Linked DNA regions of Homo sapiens. The protein of the gene in region 2 purifies or fractionates together with the protein of the main gene of each other region. This does not show direct contact. Each region holds a gene or a part of one and is shown on either strand. Other genes may lie near its edges.

Region 1 (4,378 bases), on a different chromosome or scaffold from region 2:
AACCACTAAGAAAGTTGTTTTCTTAGTGTTTTAAAAAGTACAAATAAATTAAAATGGTATGCTAAACATATGTAATTTAAAATCAAAAAGGGAAGAATAAAAAAGACACAACAAAGCAAGGAAAGTAAATCCAACTGTACGTGTAATTATATGACATGTGAAAGGTCTCTGTGCCCCAAACAGACAGGGCAGATTATCAGATAGAAAAACAAGATCTAACTGTATGCTGTCTGCTAGAGAACAGGAAAAGACGCAGCGTACAAACATCAGCTGTCATAGGAGAGCTTGAATGGCTGTACTCATACCAGACAAAACAGATGTTAAGAAATATTAGAAACCAGCCTGGCCAACATGGTGAAACCCTGTCTCTACAAAAATCACCTGGGTGTGGTGGCGCACACCTGTAATCCCAGCTACTCGGGAGGCTCAGGTATGAGAATCACTTGAACTCGTGAGATGGAGGTTGCAGTGAGCCGAGATTGCGCCACTGCACTCCAGCCTGGGTGACAAACCAAGACCCTGTCTCAAAAAAAAGCTAGAAACAAGAAGGAGCAAGGACTTCACAGCCAGAAACAGGCCAATACAGCAGGAAGATACAGCAATGATACGTGTGAATGCATCTAACCACAGAGCCCAAAATCCATGAAGCAAACACCGATCGAATGGAAAGAAATGGATCATTTATTAATTAGAATTGGAAATGGCAGCTGGGCACGGTGGCTCGGGCCTGTAAACCCAGCACTTTGAAAAGCGGAGGCAGGCGGATCACGAGGTCAGGAGATTGAGACCATCCTGGCTAACATGGTGAAACCCTCGTCTCTACTAAAAATACAAAAATTAGCTGGGAGTACAGGGCGCACGCCTGTAATCCCAGCTACTCGGGAGGCTGAGGCAGGAGAATCGCTCGAACCCGGGAGGCGGAGGTTGCAGTGAGCCGAGATCGCGCCACCGCACTCCAGCCTGGGGGACAGATGAAGACTCCGTCTCAAAGAAAATAAAATAAAAAAATGAAAAAAAAACTTCACGGATTGAATTACGTAGAAAGCCAGTTTACAAATGTGGACAAAAACGCGATAAGCAAGCTTCTGTTTAGGGGGAATGATGGCGTGTGCCTCTTCAGGGACCGCTTGGAGCAGTTAGAAAGGAAGCGGGAGCGGGAGCGCAAGATGCGGGAGCAGCAGAAGGAGCAGCGGGAGCAGAAGGAGCGCGAGCGGCGGGCAGAGGAGCGGCGCAAGGAGCGGGAGGCCCGCAGGGAAGGTAGGCGGCGCGGTGGGCAGCTGTGCTCGGCGGGACGCGTGTCTGCTGCCCCCTGGTGCTGGGCACTTGCTGTCACAGGCGGGCGCTTGGTTCCGGTGCTTGCTTTTCGCCCCTGCCTTTTTTTTTTTTTTGGAGGCAGAGTTTTGCTCTTGTCCCCCAGGCTGGAGTGCGGTGGCGCGATCTCGGCTCACTGCACCCTCTGCCTCCCGGGTTCAAGTGATCCTCCTGCCTCAGCCTCCGGAGTAGCAGGGATTACAGGCACCCGCCACCATGTTCAGCTATTTTTTTATATTTTTAGTAGAGACAGGGTTTCACCGTGTTAGCCAGAATAGTCTCTTGATCTCTTGGCCTCGTGATCCACCCACCTCGGCCTCCCAAAGTGCTGCGATTACAGGCGTGAGCCACCGCGGCCGGCCAGTACGAGCTTTTATAGTCACCCACGTCCTCACCTTAATGGAGATCTTTATTTCTTCACCCAGCTTCCGGTTTCTGTCTCGCGTCCTTTCCTTACACCCCACACAACTCCCTGGAGCTTATTCTTCAAGGCAGGTCTAGGTCTAGTAGTAATGAACTCCCTCTGCTTTTGTTTATCTGAGAATATCCTCATTTCTCCCTCATCTTTGAAGGAAAGTTTGCTGGATACGTGGTTCTTGGTTGACAATTTTGTTGTTGTTGTTTTGAGACAGAGTCTTCTTCTGTTGCCCAGGCTGGAGTGCAGTGGAGCGATCATAGCTCACTGCAACCTCGAACTCCTGGGCACAAGTGATCTTCCCACCTCAGCCTCCCGCGTAGCTGGGACCTACAGGCGTAGCGTGTGCCACCACACCTGGCTCATTTTTCAGTAGAAACAAGGTGTCCCTGTATTGCCCAGGCTGGTCTTGAATTCCTGGGCTCAAGGAACCCTCATGCCTAGCTGACAGTTTTTCCTTTTCACTTGGACTATTTCAGCCCATTGTCTTCTGGCCTCCAAAGTTTCTGATGAGAAATCTGATGATCTTATAGAGGATCCCTTGGATGCTTTAATCTGATGACCTGATTGAGGATCCCTTGGATGCTTTGAAGATTCTCTTTGCCTTAGGCTTTCAACTGTTTAATAATGGGTTTTCCTGTGGGCCTCTTGACTTCATTCTACCTGGAGTTCACTGAGCCTCTCTAATGTTTATATTTACGGTTTTCATCCAATGTGGGGGTTTTGAGGAATTCTTCAGATACCCTCTCTGCTCCTCTCCTCCCTCCTGGGCTCCCACAGATCTGTTGGGGTCCCCGAGGCCGCTCAGCACTGCTCCCTTTTCTTCAGTCTCTTCTGCTTTCTTTTCCTCAGACGATGTGATTTTATTGTCTTCAGGCTCACCGATTATTTCTTCTGCCTGCTCACATCTGCCTGTGAGTTTCTGTTGTGAATATTTACTTTTTAGTGTCTATTGTGAGCATGTACTTATTAGCTCTGGAATTTCTCTCTGGTTTCTTGTTGGATCTTCTGTCTCTGTTGATATTTCCGTCGTGTTCACGCGTCATTTTCTTGACTTTCTCCACATCTTCCTTTCGTTCTCTGAGGAACTGAAGGTTAAGACAGTTCCCTAAAGTCTTTGGGACATCTACCGTCAGGTGATTTTCAGGAACCGTGTCTGTTGGCTTCTTTTTTTCCCCTCTGAATGGGACATACTGTCCTATTTCTTTGTTTCTCTTGTGTTTTTCTTAGTCAAAAAAATGGACATTTGATTCTCATGATGTGATTCTTCCTGGTCCCCACTCAAGGGTGTGCACTTGTTGTTTTGGTTGTGCTGGGCTGTGTCTGTGGGGTCGGCCTGTTGTGGAAACTCAGGGTCTTCACGGGTCTTTTCTGAGCCTGAGCCTTTTCCTGGTCACGTGCAGCCACTTTTTAACGTTCCCGTCAATACAGATGTTTTTAATGTTCTTGTCCTGAAGTGTCTGCCTCCTAAAGGGGGAATAGAGAGAAATGAAGGGGGCAACGGGGGACGTGGTGCTCATGCCCTGGAAGTACCTTCAGCTTGGGGGTGGCCGTGGCTGCTGCCTCTTCATGCCTCTGGGGTGGGACACGCAGTCATCACACTGACCTCGGGTGTGTGTGTCCGTCTGCCCACCTGGGTCCGGCGAGCTGCATGCAGGCTGCTGCCTGCCAGCGGGGAGTGAGGTGGGAGCCACTAATGTGCGAAGCGGTGACGTTGATTAATGAATCACAGTTTACTCTCCAAGATTCCCCCTGAAGTTGCAAACCTTCAGTAGACTCCAGAGCACCTCAGTAGTTGCACAGGCCTGATCCTGTGATGCAAGTGTTGTCTCGGTGGGGAGACTGATTCCCAGTGCTTCCTACTCCATCTTTCCAGAATCTTCTCCCGCCCCTTCCTTTTTGACCAGTGAAGATCAGTCTAGAAGGTCCACCTGGGTCCTCGGGCTCACGGCCTCCAGGTTGGAGCTTTTTCTCCCTGGGCTTCCTGGGAGACCTCTGGCCTCTGACCCCGATGCTGTCAGCACCCTGTGCACGCTGTGGGTGTGTCTGCCAGGTGCGGGTGTGGGAGACGAGGCAGCTGTGCCGGGTGGGGCCTTTTGAGGAAGGCAGTGCTGCTAGTGCCATCTCCCTCTCTGCCCTGCGCGCCAGTGTCTGCACATCACCGAACGATGAGAGAGGACTACAGCGACAAAGTGAAAGCCAGCCACTGGAGTCGCAGCCCGCCTCGGCCGCCGCGGGAGCGGTTCGAGTTGGGAGACGGCCGGAAGCCAGGTGAGGCCAGGCCGGCGCCTGCGCAGAAGCCAGCACAGTGTGAGTCTTTTCTGGGGGATGTTTGGCATAAGTGTGTAGGATTCATTTAAAGCCCAGCTAAGTAACCGCTTCAGAAGAAAGTGAGAGATGTGCTGGCTGAAGTCCTCTCGTGTCGTGAGAGGGACCGTGAGTGTCTGTGTGCGGCCAGGACACAGGACGTGTGTTTATCCGCTGGGACATTCGCCACTGGCCCCGTTAGAGAAGTGGCTTCCAGCGTCTCTGGATGAGCTGGTTTCCGACCAAGCAAAGTTAATCGTTACGTGAAAGGCACTAGTTTTGGGGTGGTGGTAGCTTGTTTGTTTAAAAACATTTCCCCAAATTCACCTTTATGGTTTATCTCAT
Region 2 (5,257 bases):
TCAGATACATACAACAATCAGAAACAAAATCACTCATAATTCAGGCATCCAGAGTCCACCCCTGGTAGCATTCCAGTGTGTGGAGTCCCCTTGCATTCTCTAGGGCCCCCAAAGCCTTGTTTGTCCTCTTCCAGTGTAGATACATTGAGCGGCTTTGCTTGTTAAAAACAGTTACTGCTTTCATTTACTCAAAGATTCGTCTTTAGTCAATGAGAGTTATTTCTTACAGCTTTGTCTATGTGGTTCTGTTTTATAATGGAAGTCAAGCGAATTCTTTAGTTTTCTGATACTCTAGTTTTTTGTAAGCCCACTCAGGTGTTTGGCTTGCATTAATGGTTTGAGTAAGATTTATACAGATCTGATGGTTTTTTTGTTTTTGTTTTTTTGAGGTGGAGTCTTGCTCTGTCGCCCAGGCTGGAGTGCAGTGGTGTGATCTCAGTTCACTGCAGCCTCTGTCTCCTGGGTTCAAGCGATTCTCCTGGCTCAGCCTCCTGAGTTGCTGGGATTACTGGTGCCTGCCACCATGCCTGGCTAATTTTTGTAGTTTTAGTAGAGACAGGGTTTCTCCATGTTGGCCAGGCTGGTCTCGAACTCCTGACCTCAAGTGATCCACCTGCCCTGGCCTCCCAAAGTGCTAGGATTATAGGCGTGAGCCACTGCACCTCACTGAGATCTGATGCTTTTTTTTTGAGACAGAGTCACTGTCACCCAGGCTGGAGTGCAGTGGCACGATCTCCTCTCACTGCAATCTCCGCCTCCCAGGTTCAAGCAATTCTCCCACCTCGGCCTCCTGAGAAGCTGGGATTACAGGCACATGCCACACTCGGCTAATTTTTATATTTTTAGTAGAGGCAGGATTTCTGTATGTTGGCCAGGCTGCTCTTGAACTCCTGACCTCAAGTGATCCACCTGCCTCAGCCTCCCAAAGTGCTGGGATTACAGGCGTGCGCCACCGTACCCAGCCTTGATCTGATGCTTTTTATTTGTTAATGAGGTAGACTGTTTTTTTCCTGTAACTGTAACTAGTCAGTTTGTCAGATTTTAAGCCAACTGTTTAAGAGAATATTAAAATTAGATCATCTTGAGAACTGTTTAGGTTTATTCAAATGTAATTTATATTAGAATCATAGAATGTTAGAGTTAGAAACAAACTTCTAAGGGTGAGTGCTTTAAAGTTCTTTGACTCAGCTGTAAGTCCTTATTATTATTATTATCATTTTTTGAGATGGGGTCTCATTCTGTCACCCAGAATGAAGGCTGGAGTGCAATGGCATGATCATAGCTTACTGCAGCCTTAAAATTCTGGGATCAAGTGACCCTCCCACCTTAGCCTCCTTGAGTAGTGAGTAATTGGTGCATGCCACCATGCCTGACTAATTTTTTTGGTTTTTGTAGAGATGGAATCTCACTGTGTTGCCTAGGCTGGTCTTGAACATTATTTATTTTTTATAGCACTTTTGAAAGTGAATTTAGTACTGAGCTGATGTGGGATAGTTGATAGGGTAGTCTTCCTGATACGGGACTAGTCAGAGAGTTGTTATTGTTAAAAATTGGATACCCTGATTTAAATTAAACAGGATATGTGGGGAGATAGATTTTATTTAAATGCAACATGGTTGACTGGTCTCATTATCATCTGCAGTCATTTAAACTAGAGAAACTTGTTCTACAGTGTTCACGTTTAGATGTTTTTCCTCACCCATCTTGAGTGTTGTTGCTCTCTCTTCCTTAGGATATGGCCTACCAGATGACATTGTGATAGAAAAGAGGGGCAAAGGCGACACTTTTGTGGACTGCACTGGTGCTGATATTAAAATCTCAGGCATAAAATTTGTTCAGCATGATGCTGTAGAGGGAATCTTAAGTAAGTATCTGAATGTTTGGTATATCATTTGTTCTAAGATTTGAAGGTAAACGGTTCTCTCTATGGAAGATAGAATTTAATGAAATGCCACTCTTGAGTACAGGCATACCTTGTTTTATTGCACTTCACGATGCTGAGTTTTTTTTTTTTTTTTTTTTTTTACAAATTGAAGGTTGTGGCAACCCTGTTTCAAGCCAGTCTGTCGGCACCATTTTCCCAAGAGCATATGCTCACCTTGTGTTTCTGTGTCACATTTTGGTAACTCTCACAATATAGATAATATGCTGATCTGTGAACAGTGATCTTGATGTTACTACTGTAATTGTTTTGGGGTGCCATGAACCACATCCATAAAAGATGGTGAACTTAACTGATAATTGTGTGGGTTTTGACTGTTCCACCGATCAGCCATTCCCCTATCTCTCTCCTTCTCTTTGGGCTACCCTATTCCTTGAGACACAGCAATATTGAAATTAGGCCAGTTAATAACCCTACAATGGCATCTATGTGTTCAAGTGAAAGGAAGAGTCACATGTCTCTCATGTTAAATTTAAAAATTAGAAATGTTTAACATAGTGAGGAAGGCATGTCGAAAGCTGAGATAGGCTGACACCTAGGTCTCTTGTGTCAGTTGGTGAAGTTTTGAATGTAAAGGAAAAGTTCATAAAGGAAATTAAAAGCACTACTCTAGTGAACACATGAATGATAAGAAAGTGAAACAGTCTTATTGCTAATATGGAGAAAGTTTCTGTAGTCTGGATGGAAGATCAAATCAGCCACCACATTCCTTAAATCAGAGCGTATTGCAGAGCAGAACCCTAACTTCCTTCAATTCTGTGAAGACTGAAGGAGGTGAGGAAGCTGTAGAAGAAGAGTTTGAAACTAGCAGCTGTTGGTTCATGAGGTTTAAGGAAAGCAGCCATTTCTGTAACATAAAAGTGCAAGGTGAAGCAGCAAGTGCTGATGCAAGCTACAGAAAGTTAACCAGAAGATCTAGCTAAGGTAATCGATGAAGGTGGATACACTAAACAACACATTTTCAGTGTAGATGAAATAACCTTCTATTGGAAGAAGATTCCATCTAGTACTTTTCATAGTTAGAGAGGAGAAGTCAGTGCTTGGCTTCACAGCTTCAAAGGACAGGCTGACTCTCTTGTTATGAGTGAATGTAACTGGTGACTTTAAGTTGAAGCCAGTGCTCATTTACCATTCTGAAAATCCTAGAGCCCTTAAGAATTATGCCAGATCTACTCTGCCTGTGCCCTAGAAATGGAACAACAAAGCCTGAATGGTAGCACATCTGTTTATAATGTGGTTTACTGAATATTTTAGGCCCATTATTGAGATTTACTACTGAAAAAAAAAATTCCTTTAAAAATATGATTGCTTATTGACAATGTACCTGGTCATCTGAGAGCTATGATGGAGGTGTACTGGGAGATTAATGTTGTTTTCATGCCTGCTAATAATATCCATTCTGCAGCCCATGGATCAAGGAGTAATTTCGACTTTCAAATCTTACTATTTGAGAAATACACTTCCTAAGGCTATACCAGCTATTGATAGTGATTCCTCCGATGGGTCTGGGCAAAGTCAATTGAAAAGTTTCTGGGAAGGAGTCATCATTCTAGATGTCATTAAGAACATTTGTGATTCATGGGAGGAGGTTAAAATCTCAACATTAACAGGGGTTCTGGAGAAGTTGATTCCAGCCCTCATGGATGATTGAGGGGTTCAAGACTTGAATGGAGGAAGTAACTGCAGATGTGGTGGAAATAGCAAGAGAACTAGAGCCTGATGATAGCAAGTAGAACCTCAAGACGTGACTGAATTGCTACAATCTTATAACAAAATTGGAACAGATGAGGAATTGCTTCTTATGGATGAGCGAAGAAGGTGGTTTCCTGAGATAGAATTTCCTGGGGAGGATGCTGTGAACATGGTTGAATGACAACAAATGATTTAGAGTATTAGGTAAACTTGGTAAAGCAGAGGCAGACTTTGATGGGATTGACTCCAATTTTGAAAAACCTTCTACTGTGTGTAAAGTGCTATCAAACAAGATCACATGCTACAGAGAAATCCTTTCATGAAAGGAAGAGTCAATCAATGTGGCAAACTTCATTGTTGTCTTATTTTTAAAAATTGCCATAGCCACCTTAACCTTCAGCAAACACCATTCTGATCAGTAAGCAGCCATCAACATTGAGGTAAGACCCTCCACCAGCAAAAAGATTATGTCTTGCTGAAGGCTCAGAGGATTGTTAGCATGTTTTAGCAAAACAAAGTATCTTAAATTAAGATGTATATATTGTTAAAAAACATAATGCCTTTGTACACTTAATAGATGCATTATAAACATAGTACTCATTAGTATAAACTCATATGCTCATTAGTATAAACACAACTTTTATTTTTTTTTGTTTTTAGAGACAGTCTCACTGTCATCTAGGCTAGAGTGCAATAGCATGATCATAGCTCTCTGTAGCCTCAAACTCCTGGGCTCAAGCAATTCTGCCTTTGCCCCCCAAGTAGCTGGGACTACAGGCGTGTGCCATCACGTCTTGCTAATTTTTGTATTTTTTAGAGATGGGGTTTCACGATGTTGCCCAGGCTGGTCTCAGACTCCTGGCCTTAAGTGATCCACCCACCCCAGACTCCCATAAACATTTGTATGCACTGGGAAACCAAAAAAATTGTGTGACTCACTTTAATTGTGATATTTCCTTTATTGTGGTGGTTTGGAACTCAACCTGCAATATCTCTGGAGTATGAGTGTGTATGGAAGACTGATTATTTATGAAGCTGGGCGTGGTGGCTCACGCCTGCAATCCCAGCACTTTGGGCAGCCGAGGAGGGTGGATCACCTGAGGTCAGGAGTTTGAGACCAGCCTGGCGAACATGGTGGAACCCTGTCTCTACTAAAAATACAAAAACTAGCCAGGTGTGGTGATACACGCCTATGATGCCATCTACTCTGGAGGCTGAAGCAGGAGAATTCCTTGAACCTGGGAAGCAGAGGTTGCAGTGAGCCAAGATCGCACCACTGCACTCCAGCCCAGGCAACAGAGCAAGGCTCCGTCTCCAAAAAAAAAAAAAAGTTTACTCATTTAGGCTGGGCGCAGTGGCTTATGCCTGTAATCCCAACACTTTGGGAGGCTGAGGCGGGTGAATCACCTGAGGTCAGGAGTTCGAGACTAGCCTGGCCAACATGATGAAACCCTGTCTCTACTAAAAAATACAAAAATTAGCTGGGTGTGGTGGCAGGCGCCTGTAATCCCAGCTACTCAGGAGGCTGAGGCAGGAGAATCACTTGAAACCAAGAGGCAGAGGTCTCACTCTGTCACCCAGGCTGGAGTGCAGTGGTGTGATCTCTGCTCACTGCAAGCTCCG
Region 3 (4,378 bases), on a different chromosome or scaffold from region 2:
GTCTAGGGACACTTCCCATTTTCTTGTCGAATGCAATAACTACTTTCTAATAAAGGTGAAGTTATATATTCTACTTTGGCATTCTCCTTTGTCTATGTAATATTTTAGGTTTGGTTGACCTTGGCAGATCATTATTTGCACAGTATAGCCATTGACTGGGACAAAACCATGCGCTTCACTTTCAATGAAAGGAGTAATCCTGATGATGACTCCATGGGAATTCAGATAGTCAAGGTAATGCCCCTGAACTTGGCCTGTCATCCTAATATAGAAGAAAGACTCTAAAAGCCAGTTGCTTTTTGGACAGAGGATCAAATGATCTCTACCTTCTGGTTTGAATGTCTGTATATTTTCTGCCTTCTCATTTCATTAGCTTTTTCATGGGGAACCTTGACAATGTGTTGTCTGCATAAATTTAAATGTTACCGGTAAGAAGAAAATATTTGCAAATGAGCTTTCATTCACATTCAACTTATTAATCTTCCTCACACTATAGGAAGGACGCTTTGTCATGGGTCAATGATGCCAACTGGATTTTTATATAAAAGTCACTGATTGAAAAAGTTAGTTAAGTATATTTCATATGAGAATGATTTGGTTCTTATTAGGGTCTTTGATAGTTTCTTAACTGCCAATTTCTAAAGACAGGTTCACAGGTGGGGCCTACTTCCAACCAAATACTTGTGGGTTCAAGCCAGCTGTGTAGGCAGTTGTGGCTCGCTTACCTGGATTATTACAGTTGAACAGAGCCTGGTGCTAAAAGCCAAGGATACTGATTCTGTTTGATCCCAGTATTATCCTCTTACATAAGGCTCTAGCACATGGTTTTTGATTTTATATGAGTACATTACAGTGTGATACTCAGCTGGGGTTTTAAAAGGAAAGTTGTTTCATCCAAATTTTGGCCACCTCAAGATGGCTAATGTTTTGGCATATTTGGAGGTTTTTTTTTAAGGAGGAAGTACTAACTAAAATGAGCTACTTTCTGTTCTAACTTGGTTTCAGACAAATGCTAAAAAAGTTATGCAATTTTACATTGTGTACTAAAAAGCCTTTGCATTATTCACATTTAAGCTATATATTTGGAATTTTAGAATATGTTTCGCAGAGATGAAGTATCTCATATTTGAAATATTTCCTTTTTGTCTAACTGGTGAATTAAGGCAATGCACCTTTTGTAACAATCATCTTTTAAGAGTATCTTTTGTTTTCTCATTGAAGTGAATGCTGTGTCAGTTAATGACTTCAGCTCTTGAAAATTGTAGTTCCTGCTTAGTAATTAAATTATAGATATTGCCTTCATTAAAGCATAGCAAATATTTCTGTCTTTCTTATATACATTCATAAAATAATTTGAATAGAATGATTTTTCTCTCTATAATCACATTTTTTGCTATTTTGATTTCACTCCTTTATGTTATTTAGAGTTTTGATAGCTAAATATTATACTTTATTTGTAGAAAGGAAGAATGTTAGCCTCAATCATACATGTATTGTGATGACTATTGTTTTACCTGAGAAATATTATTAAAACAATCAATTTACATGAAATTATACTGTAATTATTGTTAATTCTGAGCTACTTTTTGTGGTAATCCTGGAAACGTTTTAAGTTGAAAATTTGCCTGACTGAAATTCCCCTTGCAAATCTCTCTTAAACAGCATATTACAAAATATTATGAAAAAGAAAGCTAAAAATGCATTTTGGCTCATATGTATAAAAACATACACATTTTAAAAAAATTTTATGTCGATGATTTGACTCTGTTTATTGAGTCAAAAAAAAAAGGTATTGTTTTGGAAAGAATATTAGGAGTTATTTTTGAAAATATTGTTTCCCTTCCATTTAGGACCTTCACCGCACAGGCTGTAGTTCTTACTGTGGCCAGGAGGCTGAGCAGGACAGGGTTGTGTTGAAGCGGGTGCTGCTGGCCTATGCCCGATGGAACAAAACTGTTGGGTACTGCCAAGGCTTTAACATCCTGGCTGCACTAATTCTGGAAGTGATGGAAGGCAATGAAGGGGATGCCCTGAAAGTGAGTAGCAGGCTCTGACAAAGGCCATGGACATTCTTCTGAGAGTGAGAAATTGGAACCATAATTTCTCTTCCTTGATGTCTCATCCTTTTCCAAGGTGTTTGCCACACCTTTGTAATGACCTATGATAGCATTTCCTCCAGGTTAGAGCCATGTCAAGTGACAGATTCATGTAGCTGCCAACTATGAGGCAAATGATTATGTATTTAGTCTCATTTATAAGACATCATATTTTTAAAGCAAGTTAAATATTAATTGTATTAATTATTCATTGCTGTTCAACAAATTAGCTGCTTAAAACAGCAAATGTATTATCTTACAGTTTCTTTGCGTCAGAAATCTAGGCACAGCCTAACTGCCTCAAGGACACATCACTGTTGCTGTTGGTTGGTGTTGCGATCTCATCTGAAGGCTCAATTGGGGGTGGGCATTGGCTTTCGAGTTTGTTTATGTGGTTGTTAGCAAGATTTAATTCCTCACAGGCTGTTGGACTGAGGCCATGGTTCCTTGCTGGCTGTTGACTGGAGGCCTTTTATAGTTCCTTGCCATGTAGCCTCTCCATCTCTCAACCCAGTGGCTGGCACCCCCAAAGTGAACATGAGAGTAAAAGATAGTGAGCAAGGCAAAAGAGTTTAAGTTACAGATTTGTAGCCAAACATCAGAAGTGACATCCCACTATATTTCCATATTCTGTTCTTTAGAAGCCAGTCACCAGGTTCAGCTTATAGTCAAGGAGAAGGGCTCATACAAGGGTGTGACTCAGGGGTCATGTTAGAACTGCCTCCCACACTAGTTATGCTTAATTTTGATTGGATTGCCTTATTGAGTTGCTTTACTCTTTCATATTTGGAGCAAGATATGGAGGAGTTGGGCTGAGAGTGAGTGTCTAAGGAAGGTGTTTGCATGGAGAAGCATTATGGAATTGACTTACATTAATATCTTTTAATCTTTGATGCCTACGACCTTTATTAGTTAAAACAAATTTTAAAAACATGTTGAGATGGGGCACTAGTGATTTAAGCTTAGTTTGCATGTGTGTCAGTGAGTCACCAGAAATAGAGTGCTTATGAGAAATGAAGCATTTTAAATGTGGAGGCTAATGCCTATTTGCTTAAGGCAATGTGGGATTACTAATTCATATTTGAACCTTTAAACTGCTCTTGATTGCAATGCTTTGTGATGTATGAGATAGATACTTAGTCTTCGTGTTCAAGAACCGCCCCCCGACACAACCCCACTCCCAACAACTTGTGTTTGACTATGGTGAATACCTTATTGATACTGTCAATCACTGATTAATGTGATGTGGAAAAATAAACAAATGTTCCTCTTGGTTTTATACAAATGATGGTGGACTAGTTATAAATCCAGCTTGACATGATCTAAATCTGTATTCAACCTCTCACTTTTTCCATTGATGTATTTAAGGAAGCAGCTTTGAAGTTACTTGTTCATCAAAAAGGTGAGGGTAGGAGAGGGAGGAAGGCAGTGACAAATACATGACTTTAAGATGTTTTTTATTAAGAAGCAATTTTGTTTACTCAGTCTATCAGCTTTCATCAGTTTTTTTTTTCAGATGGAATTGGTATGATGATAAAATGGGAATTGTTTTCTAGAGCAATTGGAATAAGTGAATCAAGTTAGGGGGTCGGATGGAGATGTTCAGGGAAGGAAATGTACATGCCAATCAAATTATAAAAGGGCTCAGTAATACTTGAGAAACTGGAAATTAAAAACTCACGTAAAAATATGGATTAGATAAAGATGAGAAACTGAATATTTCAGCCCCCACGAAAATGGGCTCCATGCAATGAGATGATGTCATCATCCTTTAAGAGTGTATAGATCTTGTGTTTAGACATTTAATATGCAGAGGAAGGTTGGCTTCATGAAGAAACACTTCTGATGTTGAGGAAAATATTGGACATCTATTTTTTCAGCATGGCCTCTACAAGTCATAATTACTAAGGAAACATATAGTTTATTAGAAATAGGTGAACCATTTTTCCTGCTATTTAGCACTTAAGTTTTTACTTAGCAAATCTTTCATTTTCAACCTTTTGTTAAAAATTCAGAGCTCTCCCATTATTTAGCCAAATCTTTTTTTTTTTTTTTTTTTTGAGATAGAGTCTTGCTCTGTCACCCAGGCTAGAGTGCAGTGGCATGATCTTGTCTCACTGCAACCTCCACCTTCCAGGTTCAAGCAATTCTCCTGCCTCAGCCTCCCGAGTAGCTGGGATTACAGGTATACACCACCACGCCCAGCAAATTTTTATATTTTTAGTAGAGATGGGGTTTCACCATGTTGACCAGGCTGGTCTCAAACTCCTGACCTCTCAGGT
Region 4 (4,378 bases), on a different chromosome or scaffold from region 2:
TAACATACTTCTTTTGAAGGATTGGGAAATGTTACTAGATGGAAAACTAATCTGATCTTCTTCTGTTTGCCTGAAAAACAGAGGGAAACTAAGAAAAAGGCTACTAACTAATGCCCCCAATCAATATCCACTCATTTATTTGATGAAAGTAAACAGCAGTGGCAACTAATATGTTTGTAAAGCGGCAAACCTTCAAGTAGGGCATATATCCTTCTCACCCAGATGTTCACCAGTAAATAATACTCACTGTAATGGCTTCTCGCCAGTGTGAATCATCCGGTGCACTGCCAGATTGTGGGAACTCTTGAAGGCCCGAGCACAATATTCACAGATATAATCCCTTTGATCTATGAAGAAAATACTGTGGTTAGTGTTCTATTTAGATACCCTGTAAATATTTTCCCTTACAGTAAGTAAGCAGATGATGGGGCAGGCAATTTAGAGTAAAAGCAATGCTGTTTTCAATGTATAAACACTTTGGGTAAACAAAATTTAAAAAAGAAAAGTATTGCTTTAAAAAAAATCCAACATTCAGTAGCATAAGGACCTGTTTAAAAAAAAACAAAAACAAACAGAAAAACTAGATAAAAATATAAGAAATGGAATCCTAATCTCAATTTTACCACTAATCCAGGTCTTGGATACCAAGTGGTTAGCAAGTAAACAACTATATTTTCCATATATTTTACTCCTTTAAGGAGTAAACAATTTTTTTCACAGACAATGAAAACTGAATGATTACACAGAAAGAATCTGGCATTCAAACAAAACAAAAACAAAAAACAAGAACTTGGCACTGTATAGAAGAAAACTGATCTAAAGGTAATCATACCCTGTTTCAGGTTTAAAAAATGTTACTCAAGATAAACTTTTCTCAAAAGACTGGAGTTGCTGCTATCAAATATATGTAAATAACACCTGTACTACTTTACCTTATTCTCCTACCCATCTTCTGCACCTTTCAACTACCTCCCTTTGTCACTCACAACACCCTCAACCCCATTATGCAGGATTTCTGATGAATGTGGTAACACGGTGTGGAATCTATGAGGAGGAAAAAGGAGCATTGTACTTATTCATTTCTTTACCGTGTTTGGGAAGCCCGTGCACAAAGAGATGCTCTCTATATATATTTGTTGAATTAATGACCACTACATTTTCTACTCCTTTTGCTTCAAATTACCAGAATTAATGAGAATGAAAACATGAATTTAAGTTAAAAGGTGAACAATATCCAATTTAATCTTATACTCCTTTCCAAACAGCTTAGAGATCACCTGGATAGCTTATTAAATGTATATGCTGATTCAGCAGGTCTGAAGCAGGGCCTGAGATTCTGTATCTCTAATAAGAACCCAAATGATGTCAATGCTGGTTGGTCTGTATTCCATACTTTATATAGCAAGGTCTAAAAACGCACAGTTCTAACTTAGGAAACTCTTAGCATCTCCCAGGTCATGTCCACATTTCCAGTTCCATAGCAGGACAAACCTGTGTGGGGCATCTATTTGCTAAATAAATGACATTTGCAAAAAAAAGTCTGTATATACTAATTTGCAAAAGTAAAACATCATAAATTGTATTAACCAAATATAAATATTTGAAATGGACTGAATTTATAAAAGTTTTTCATACGCTTTTGATATTTAACTAAAACAATCTAAAGTGGCTGTCAGAAACAACTTTTCTATGGCATAAAACAGTATTAACAGGGAGCAGAAGGAACAGAGAAATTGCAGTACCTATCAAGAAACAGAAATAACTGTTACTTGTGGAAATAACTCTGAAGAAACATGGTATAAGAAAACTGTAGACTTTGGAGTGATTAAGATTCAAGTTCAATCCTGGTATTGTGCCAGGCTCTGTGTAGTCAATAGCATTTTATGTTATCTCATTTCATCCCTACAATAACTGATATTGGTATCCTTAATACACAGAGAAGGAAAAGTGAAAAGAGAAGTTAAGTAACTTTCCTACAGTAAATGAAGGAGTTATTTCATTTATCAGTATGACCTTGGGCAGGAGACATATTTCTACAACTAGAATTCCTAGACTTACTCTCTAAGACTGTTGAGAAGGTAATGTGTAATTATCAAGTGTCTGGGACATACTCAGTGGTATGCACCCAATTTGTTCCTATTAGGTACACTGCACTGAGATGGTCAGTGGTTACAAATAAATTGAATTTGAGTCTATTCTATAATACATATTGCAGACACTCAGCAACTCTTTTTGACAGTTCCTATGGGAGTTTACATGCAAATTCAACAGCTAGACTTCACAGTTTCAATAGCAGCAGAGTATTATGCTTCTCCTAAAAACTAGCTATGTGACCATGGGCAGGTTACTTAATCCTGCCAAGCTTCTAGTTTCTTAGCTGTAAAATAAGATCAATATAAACAAATTTAGTGGTGTTGAATAGACTAATTAGCAATAATATACATAACGTATTTAGTCCACAGTTGATACAGAATAAATGCTCAATAGAAGATCATTATCCCGGTCATAGAAGTTCAAGAAGTCAAAGGATAAAAATTCAAAAGTCCTAGTCTGCCCATCCCTTGTAAAATTTGTCTTACTACATTTTATTTTCACACCTTTTCCCCGCACTTGACTATAGAATCTTTTAAGACTTATGTTAGAAAAACGTTATCATTACCAACATGCAAAACTAAAGCACAGTGCAATTACCTACTTGATAAACACATTTTAAAAGTACCTGTATGATGTTTGGCATGTCGCAGAAGTTGCTTCTGAAGCCTGAAGAGTCGTCCACAGGAGGGATGGGGACATACATATTTCTTCTTCAGCAAATGCTGGTATTTAATGTGGTGCTAAAACAGAGAAAGTGAAAGGGGCGAAAAAAAAAAAATTAAGGCTTCCTGAAAGTACTTGTCTTTGCTAAGTCAAAAGTACTGAAGGAAAACCAAATACTTAGATTTCACACATGGATAGTGAGGGAGTATAATAAAGTGGCTAAGAACATAGGTGGAAATACACAGACCTGGTTTCCAATCTGGGTCTGTCATTCACTAGCCTTTGTAATCTTAGGAGACAAATATTTCAAGCTCCAGTTCTCATTTGTAAAATGGAGGTAACAATAACCATCTCAAAGTGTTGTTATGGGGATAAGAGATTATGTATTGTACTGTGCTTTAGAGCAGCAAATGGCACACAGCAGAGGAGGAGCGGCTATTGTTATAACTGAACCACGATCCAGAAGAAGGCCTTCGTGTCATGTTATATTTGTTGCTGAAGATCAAACAGGTATTTCCTAAGCAGTATTTCACTTTCACGTTTCCTGCCAGACCTAAATATAAGTGGTACGTTTACTCATCAAAAATAATAATAATAATCTACTCAAGAAAAATAAAAACAAAACCTCAACTAAAAGTCTTTTATTCATTCTACACAGTACCCAAGAAATCACAGGTTTGAGTTCTAATTTTACTTTTTTTCTAAATCACTTTAAAATAAAATGTTACTCTGTATTTACACCACATTGGGAATTACTGTAATATTGAAAGATTCCAACGAAAGTTCTCTATGTGGGTTCAGATTCTTAGTCACCTCTTTTTAAACAGGAGGTGCTATGAATTTGGATGTGTTCACCACAGTTCATGTGTTGGAAACTTAATCCCCAATGTGATAGTGTTGGAAGGCGGGACCTAATGGGAGGTGCTTAGGTCTTAAAGGCTCTACCCTTATATAAATGGGTTGATATTATCATTGGAGTAGATTTGTTACAAAAGCAAGTTCAACCCATTCTTGCCCTTCCACCATGGGCTGACACAGTTAAAAGGCTCTTGTGAGATGTGGGCACCATGCTTTTGGACTTTCCAGTCTCCAGAACCACAAGCTAATAAATAAATATATGTTCTTTGTAAATTACCCAGTCTCAGGTACTCTATTATAGCAGCACAAATGGACTAATCATGATTAACCCATTTATGCTGGAGGTTGCAAATGTATTTTTGTGAAAAATCAGACCTTGGTGATGACCTTGAACAGTAGGATATAAATAACTTGCCCAAGCTTAGCATTCTAATAATGGAACACTAGGCATAAATGGGTTAAAGTCATTTTATGTTTAAAGAAAGACTTTTCTTGACATTACATGTCAATGATAAAGCCTACACAAGCCAACAAATTAAAGTCTCGTGGTGCAAGAACAAGTAATGGAACACAACCTGAAAGGCTCTTATATAACAACTTCACTGACCTGCAAATAGCGAGGATGGGCAAGGACAGTTCCACATCCTTCCATCTCACAACGGACATACTGGATTGGAGGCTTTTTTCTATTATCAAAATGCAGAAGAAAAGTTAGCAAAAAAAAAAAAGTGGTACTCTGCACAGTGGCCTCTGACTTAAACTG

The links. Proteins that work in one complex are often made in the same cells at the same time.
Region 1: the proteins of SHCBP1 (region 2) and CDK11B purify together in Homo sapiens (affinity purification with mass spectrometry, with the first as the bait; one large-scale study listed by BioGRID). This does not show direct contact.
Region 3: the proteins of SHCBP1 (region 2) and TBC1D30 purify together in Homo sapiens (affinity purification with western blotting; one study listed by BioGRID). This does not show direct contact.
Region 4: the proteins of SHCBP1 (region 2) and ZFP91 fractionate together in Homo sapiens (co-fractionation; one large-scale study listed by BioGRID). This does not show direct contact.

The regions. Positions count from the first base shown.
Region 1 is NC_000001.11:1,642,005-1,646,382, reverse strand, and holds part of CDK11B (cyclin-dependent kinase 11B), read left to right. Parts: intron 1-1,093; coding exon of another isoform or gene 1,094-1,120; coding exon 1,121-1,257; intron 1,258-3,874; coding exon 3,875-3,997; coding exon of another isoform or gene 3,998-4,036; intron 4,037-4,378. UniProt on the Homo sapiens protein: Plays multiple roles in cell cycle progression, cytokinesis and apoptosis. Involved in pre-mRNA splicing in a kinase activity-dependent manner. Isoform 7 may act as a negative regulator of normal cell cycle progression.
Region 2 is NC_000016.10:46,596,438-46,601,694, reverse strand, and holds part of SHCBP1 (SHC SH2 domain-binding protein 1), read left to right. Parts: intron 1-1,732; coding exon 1,733-1,864; intron 1,865-3,347; coding exon of another isoform or gene 3,348-3,409; exon of another isoform or gene 3,410-4,336; intron 4,337-5,257. UniProt on the Homo sapiens protein: May play a role in signaling pathways governing cellular proliferation, cell growth and differentiation. May be a component of a novel signaling pathway downstream of Shc. Acts as a positive regulator of FGF signaling in neural progenitor cells.
Region 3 is NC_000012.12:64,830,269-64,834,646, forward strand, and holds part of TBC1D30 (TBC1 domain family member 30), read left to right. Parts: intron 1-108; coding exon 109-234; intron 235-1,850; coding exon 1,851-2,036; intron 2,037-4,378. UniProt on the Homo sapiens protein: May act as a GTPase-activating protein for Rab family protein(s).
Region 4 is NC_000011.10:58,612,685-58,617,062, reverse strand, and holds part of ZFP91 (E3 ubiquitin-protein ligase ZFP91), read right to left. Parts: intron 4,302-4,378; coding exon 4,223-4,301; intron 2,835-4,222; coding exon 2,720-2,834; intron 348-2,719; coding exon 248-347; intron 1-247. UniProt on the Homo sapiens protein: Atypical E3 ubiquitin-protein ligase that mediates 'Lys-63'-linked ubiquitination of MAP3K14/NIK, leading to stabilize and activate MAP3K14/NIK. It thereby acts as an activator of the non-canonical NF-kappa-B2/NFKB2 pathway.